Linked DNA regions of Homo sapiens. The protein of the gene in region 1 interacts with the protein of each later gene in a pairwise test. Each region holds a gene or a part of one and is shown on either strand. Other genes may lie near its edges.

Region 1 (3,819 bases):
GCCAGCAAGTCACCTGGCCGACAGCCAACCAGAACTCTTCCTTTCCTCTTCCACAGGAGACCAAGGGCAGCGTGGCCGTGCGCGTGGCTCTGGGGGAAACCCAGCTCGTCCAGGAAGTGCGGCGTTTTCTCATAGACAACGGGGTCAGCCTGGATTCCTTCAGCCAGGTGGGTGTTCTCGGTGGCGCCAGCCAGCCAGCAGCCACTGGAGAGTCGAGAATGGCCTTTCCAGGGGAGATGCAGATGGATTTAAGGATCTGGCCTTCTAAGGACTATTACTGATTTCTAAATTGTCTCTAAAGAAAAGAAGAAATGTTACATGGGCTGAGACAAGTGGCCTATCTGACCCTGATTCTGTCTGTCCAGAGCCATGTACAAGAGGTCTGCCTACAACCCCACAGTTCCCCCACACAGATCGGCACCCCCAACATCTCACTCCCCTACCCAGTGGCTTCCCAGAGCATCTGTTATCTGTTCGGGGACTTTGACCCTTCTTGAACCTAGCAGGGAAGAGTCCAGCACCTCCATGTGCCTGTTCTCCAGCAAGTAGCAGGTCTTAGATTTATGGATGACTGCAGCTTAGAGGGCCCCTAAGACATCATGAGACCCCTTCATTTTACAATCTGGGATACCAACGCTCAGAGTGGGGAGGTGACTTACAAGGTCAAACAGTCTATATGTGAGAGGAGCCTGGACTAAAACTCAGGGCTTCTGACTCCCAAAACAGCCCTTTCAACAGCCTTCCCAGGCCTCACATTTTTACCTCAAGATGGATGAGGAGGATGGATGAATGAAGATGTATGGGGGATGGGTGGATGGATGGATGGATGGATGGATGGAGGATGAATATGGATGGTGGATGAATGGATGGCTTGATGGTTGGATGGATGGATGGATGGATGGATGGTGGATGAATACAGATGATGCATGGATGGATGGGTAGATAGATGGATAAAATAAATATACTAATAGCTAACATTTATTAAGACTTACCAAAGCACTCTTCTAAGTTTACATGTTTAATTAGCTCATTTCATTCACATGGCCACTCTGTGAAAGCAGCTCTACTGTGCTTCCACCCTACAGAAGGAACCACAGTCACAGAGGGGTGAAGTCACTTCACAGCTAGTCATGGTGGAGCTGAGTTTGAACACAGGCCTTCTGGCCCCAGAGTCTGTCTCTCTAACTGTAACACTGCGGCCTGAGTTGCACCTAAAAGGCCCACAGGTGCCCAGCCTTTCCCACCTGCAGATGGTTTTCACTCCCCTCACCTCACTCAATCCTCATAGTAACCTTGTGTGGCCTCTATAAGATGGGTGTGACTGTTAGCCCATTTTGCAGATGAGAAAAATTGAGGCCCACAGAAACAAGGTAATTGACCCAAGGTCTCAGGTTACATTAGCGGCTGAGCTAAGACTTATTCCCAGATAGGCCATATGCCTAGATTTTTCCATTATATTTTATTGGCTCTTTTATCCTCCTCCAACATTATTTTTTAATAAAATTATTGCTAACGTTTTCAGAGTGCTCATATTACATGTACTTTTACTAACCCATTTAATGAAAACTTTTCCTGGAGCGATCCTGTGAAATAAATGCTCTGTCCTTGCTGTCGCTGCGGGAGCTGAGGCACAGTTAAGTACATTTCTCAAGGCTGAATAGCTTAGTCTTTTAGTTTTGGTTCTCCCAGAAGCAGATTCTGAGACAAGGATTCAAGGGCAAACAGTTTTGGGGGCAGTGCAGAAAACTCTGGTGAGAAAGGGATGCAGGGAAGGGAAGGAGCCCAGGGTGCAGAGTGTGCTGCTGCAGTACGCTGCCCTGTGGCTGCCTGGAGCTCTGCCTAGGGGAAAGCCTGCAGCACTCATACCTCAGTCTCATCCCACCCAAGGACAAGGAGTGCAGCAACTCCTGAGAGCTGTGGGCTGCTCCCAGGGGGCGTTAGCTCTGCAGCACGTCCTGCTGGCTGCACGTGGTAGCAGGTGGGCGGTCTGTAGTTCAGGAAAAAAAGCCTTGGTACTGAGATGCAGACCCCAGCCACTGGAAGCCTTGGAAAGTGCGGCCCTGCTCAGGAGTGGAGGAGGGGCTGGGATTTGATCCAGAAGCTCCAGCTTCAGAGTCCCAGGCCTTACCCCCTCTGCAGAGCTGCCTTGCAGCCTTGCAGGGAGCATCATGCCAGAGAGGGTCGTTCCTCCTGGGTCTTCCTCCTAAGTGCCTGGTTGCTGAGGTTCCAAATGGAGAGCCTTGTCTGGAGAGCCCCACGATCCCTGCTGGTGTCAGCTGGGGACCCTCCTCCCTCCTGTGGTCCCATGTGTGTGCATTTCCTCTTTGCAGGCTGCAGCAGAGCGAAGCAAGACTGTGATTCTGGTCAAGAACCTCCCGGCAGGCACCCTGGCGGCCCAGCTGCAGGAGACCTTCGGCCATTTTGGCAGCCTGGGCCGCGTGCTGCTGCCAGAGGGCGGAATCACTGCCATCGTGGAGTTCCTGGAGCCCCTGGAGGCCCGCAAGGCCTTCAGGCATCTGGCCTATTCCAAGGTAGGGCTGCTGGAGACCCAGAATTGATCTGGAGAAGGACCAGTGAGGGCTGCTTCAAGGGAGAGGGTGCAGTGGGCTATGGATTCACAGATGTGGCACATGGGAGCTCACCCTAAACCGCCCGTCACGATCATGGCTGAATATCATCCCTGCCGCCTGAAAACCTGTCTGGATGGGAAGAATGGGAGACGGAAGTTCTTTTTTTTTTTTGAGACAGAGTCTTGCTCTGTCACCCAGGCTGGAGTGCAGTGGCGCGATCTCTGCTCACTGCAAGCTCCGCCTCCCGGGTTCACGCCATTCTCCTGCCTCAGCCTCCCAAGTAGCTGGGACTACAGGCACCCGCCACCCCGCCTGGCTAATTTTTTTATATTTTTGGTAGAGACGGGGTTTCACCGTGTTCACCAGGATGGTCTCGATCTCCTGACCTCGTGATCCGCCCGCCTCAGCCTCCCAAAGTGCTGGGATTACAGGCGTGAGCCACTGCGCCGGGCCGGGAGAAGGGAGTTCTGAACCATCCTCCAGAAAGCATGCCTTGGTTCCTTGCCTGACTCTAGCTTTTCTTTGGCTTTCTTTACCCATGTTAATTTGGATTAGCATTTTAATTTTAATTAAATGTGTTCATTATTTTTTTGAAAAAGTATTTATTTATTTTGAAAGACAGGGTCTCGCTCTGCCACCCAGGCTACAGTGCAGTGGCGCCATCTTGGTTCGCTGCAGCCTTGAACTCTGGGGCTCAAGCAATCCTCCCACCTCAGCCTCCCATGTAGCTGAGACTACAGGCATGCACCACCACGCCTGGCTAATTTTTTGATTTTTTGTAGAGACAAAGGTCTCCCTATTTTGCCCAAGAATGAGCATTCTTGATGCTTTTGTAATCCTGTAGCTACAATGAGATGAATGAAAGTCAGTTCTGTAGGTGGGGCTGTCTCCTGGTTCTTGGTTTAGAAAAAAGCCAACAGTTGTGTATTAGTTTGCTGGCTGTGGCTGTCATAACAAATTATTACAAGCTAGTTGGCTTGAAACAACAGAAATAGATCATCCCACGGTTCCGAAGGCCACAGTCTGAAATCAAGGTGTCAGCAGGGTTGTGCTTCCTCTGAAGGCTCTAGGGAGTCTGATCTGTGTCTCTTCCAGCTTCTGGTGGCTCCAGGCATCCCTGGCCCATGGCTGCATCACTCCAGTTTCTCCCTTCATCCTCACTTGGCTTTTCCTCTTCTCTCAGTCTTCCTCCCTGTTTCTCTTATAAGGACACTTGTCATTGGATTTAGGCTCTGCCGGGATAATGCAA
Region 2 (3,819 bases), on another chromosome or scaffold:
TTCTCGTTATTCTTACTTCATAAATCTAGGTCTTGACATATTACATTCCCTTAAGGTAGCTATACTATATGCCTATGTTCTAAGGGAATAGTTGCAACTGAAATGTCTTTGTATAGAAATCAACAAGGTCAGGCCAGGCGCGGTGGCTCATGCCTGTAATCCCAGCACTTTGGGAGGCCGAGGCGAGCCGATCATGAGGTCAGGATATCGAGATCATCCTGGCTAACATGGTGAAACCCCGTCTCTACTAAAAATACAAAAAAATTAGCCAGGCGTGGTGGCGGGCGCCTGTAGTCCCAGCTACTCAGGAGGCTGAGGCAGGAGAATGTTGTGAACCCAGGAGGTGGAGCTTGCAGTGAGCCGAGATCGCGCCACTGCACTCCAGCCTGGGCGACAGAGCAAGACCTCTGTCTCAAAAAAAAAAAAAAAAAAAAAAAAAAAAATTTTAAGAAATCAACAAGGTCAGGGTTAATTAATGCACTATTTGCACCTTGAAATAATAACTCTACTTGTTTTTTTTTTTTTTTTTTTGAGACGGAGTTTCCCTCTTGTTGCCCGGGTTGGAGTGCAATGGCGCAATCTCGGCGCACTGCAACCTCTGCCTCCGGGGTTCAAGGGATTCTCCTGCCTCAGTCTCCCTAGTAGCTGGGATTACAGGCAGATGGCATGACGCCTAGCTATTTTTTTTATTTTTAGTAGAGACGGGGTTTCACCATGTTGCTCAAGGCTGGTTTCGAACTCCTGACCTCAGGTGATTGCCTGCCTGGGTCTCCCAAAGTGCTGGGATTATAGGTGTGAGCCACCACGCCAGGCCTAATAACTCCACTTTTAAAGTTTTATGTTGTTTAGATTGTAGTTTACTCTTTAATTACCAGTGTTTAAGATTAGTAACAAAAGATGTTAACTACTAAAATTCATTCATTCTTTCACAATTTTATTGGTCTTCACAAATAAATGAAAAAGTACTAAAAGGAAGATTTCTAAAACAATAGGTTTCTACAGAAGCAATTCCATCATTTATTTAAGTCGGGATCTAACTTCTAGGTGTTTTTAAAAACAGAAAATAAAAAACAGAAAAATATTTTTAAAAAATCTCTTTCCCATTAGCCTGTAATTATTGATAGTAAATGCTCCCATGATTTTCCAGATCAATACTACTATCTGGTGGTAATAATTAATTTGGAAGAATTATAGTACAATATTAAGCTTCTACAAGAGTTGTCCTAGACATTTTCACATACAGAAATAACTATATAGCATGAACTATGAAGCATGTTATTTTGTAGAAATTAATCAATAAAATCTACAGTAAAAAGGAAAAAAAAAATCTAACAACTTACCACATTTCTCATTTTCAGAGGTTATCAAGCCCTACGAGGAAGACATTTAATACCTATTACAATACATTCATTTTATATACAAATAATAGAAAGCTGGGTCTGTTATGGGTATATATCCCAAGAAATCAAGGCCTATCATTTTCAGCATCAGAGGAAAAGCAAACAATTGTTTTTTAATTAGGCTTAAAATTTTAAAATGTTATGCTATTTCTCCTTGGAGTAAATGTTTCTGGATGAGCACTGAAAAGCATGGGCTACTGCATGAAGGAACATACAGCTGTGTTTTGCCAGCCACTATTACTAATTATATCATTATTGTATTTTATATGTCAATTAAACTACATCATGTCTTAAAATCAAATATAAGATGTAGCTAAATTTCAGAGATATTAAAGTATGGGAGAAAATACAAAAAGTATTAATGTTAATAAAAAATGTTATCTCCTATGGACAAATGTGTTGTTGCTGAGACAGGGTCTCACTCTGTCACTCAGGCTGGAGTGCAGTGGTGTGATCATGGCTCACTGCAGCCTTGACCTCTGGGGCCCAAGCAATCCTCCCATCTCAGCCTCCCAAAAAGCTGGGACCATAGACATGCGCCACCACGCCTGGCTAATTTTAAAAATTTTTGTAGAGATAAGGTCTCCCCATGTTGCCCAGGATGGTCTTGAACTCCTGGGCTCAAGTGATCCTTCTGCTTGGCCTCCCAAAGTGCTGTGATTACAGACATGAGCCACCATGCCACGCCCTCAAAATATTTAATTGCCAAAACATTTCTCGAATGTCAAAGAAATGCCAGGTAGCCAGAAAAAAACAAAAGAAGCGACTATGTGCCTAGTGTTATAATGGGAAGCATCTAGAAATGTAAGAAAGAATTAGGACCCTGAAAATAGTAACTCCTATTTCATTCATACCTTCAAAATTATTTGAAGCATAATTTACATATTTCAAAAACAGCTTGAGAAAACAATACTTTAAAGTGATAGTTGTATGTAGATCAGGTTACCCTTTTAAAAAATTTCAGAACCTACCTTTTATATGGGCTTTTCATCTGAAATCTTAGTATAAGAAATGCCGATCAAAAATTACAAACTATATTTAACGATCTTAAGATGACAGCTATTTCAACAACTGCAAGATTAGTTAACAAAAGAGTAGAAATGTTAAGCTATAACTGTTCCAATTCCAAAAGGACTTACTTCAGACTTTTTTTGTTCAGATCGTTCCTGACTTTGAAGTTCACTCCATTCCGATCTTACAGGTGTATCTGAGAAAAATGAAATCTTATTGTTATTAACACCTTGAATTTCTGAAATTTCTTTGCATTAAAGTAATACAAAAAACAGATCCTAAAGATTTTAGAAACTATCGCTTCCACAAAAATTTTGTAGTTTCTGGGTAAGCATATTTCTGAAGTTTCTAAAAAAAAAAAATTGTAGTTTCTATTAATTCGAGAACATTCTGTTTCCTTCCTTCAAAACCTAAGTAAATAAATTCAGTCATCAGTGTATTACAGTCTATAGATAATGTGACAGACAAGTGAAGTATACTGCTTAATCTACAGACAACGTGACAGACTTAGACAACTGAAGTATACCGTTTCATTGCTTTCAACATTCTTTTTAATTGTTGTTGAGACAGGGTCTCACTCTGTTGACCAGGCGCGATCTCGGCTCACTGGAGCCTCAACCTCCCAGGCTCAGGCAATCTTCCCATCTCAGCTTCTTGAGTAGCTGGGACTATAGGTGCATGCCACCTCGCCTGGCTAATTTTTGATTTTATACAGACAGGGTTTTGCCATGTTGCCCAGGCTGGTCTCAAACTCCTAGGGCAAATGGAACAGAGATCCACCTGCCTTGGTCTCCCAAAGTGCTGGGATCACAGGCATAAGCCATTGTGCTTGGCTCTTTAACATTTATCTTAAAATCAGTCAAAATTCACTTTGGGAGGCTGAGGCAGGCAGATCACTTGAGGTCAGGAGTTCAAGACCAGCCTGGCCAACATGGTGAGACCCTATCTCTAATAAAAAAATTAGTTGGGAGTGACGGTGTATGCCTCTAATCGCAGCTACTCAGGAGGCTGAGGCAGGAGAACAGCTTGAGCCCAGATCGTGCCACTGCACTCCAGCCTGAGTGACAGAGTGGAACTCCAACTCGAAATAAAACAAAACAAGGCCGGGCGTGGTGGCTCCCGCCTGTAATCCCAGCACTTTGGGAGGCTGAGGCGGGCGATCACGAGGTCAGGAGATGGAGACCATCCTGGCTAACATGGTGAAACCCTGTCTCTACTAAAAAAATACAAAAAAATTAGCCGGGCGTGGTGGCTCATGCCTGTAATCCCAGCACTTTGAGAGGCTGAGGTGGGCGGATCATGAGGTCAGGAGATGGACCATCCTGGCTAACACGGTGAAACCCTGTCTCTACTAAAAAAAATACAAAAAAATAAGCCGGGTGTGGTGGCAGGCACCTGTAGTCCCAGC

The links.
Region 2: the proteins of RBM19 (region 1) and PTPN12 interact in a two-hybrid assay, tested with the Homo sapiens proteins (one large-scale study listed by BioGRID and IntAct).

Annotation. Positions count from the first base shown.
Region 1 is NC_000012.12:113,938,672-113,942,490, reverse strand, and holds part of RBM19 (probable RNA-binding protein 19), read left to right. Parts: intron 1-56; coding exon 57-167; intron 168-2,330; coding exon 2,331-2,531; intron 2,532-3,819. UniProt on the Homo sapiens protein: Plays a role in embryo pre-implantation development.
Region 2 is NC_000007.14:77,634,570-77,638,388, reverse strand, and holds part of PTPN12 (tyrosine-protein phosphatase non-receptor type 12), read right to left. Parts: intron 2,624-3,819; exon of another isoform or gene 2,608-2,623; coding exon 2,540-2,607; intron 1,372-2,539; coding exon 1,341-1,371; intron 1-1,340. UniProt on the Homo sapiens protein: Dephosphorylates a range of proteins, and thereby regulates cellular signaling cascades. Dephosphorylates cellular tyrosine kinases, such as ERBB2 and PTK2B/PYK2, and thereby regulates signaling via ERBB2 and PTK2B/PYK2.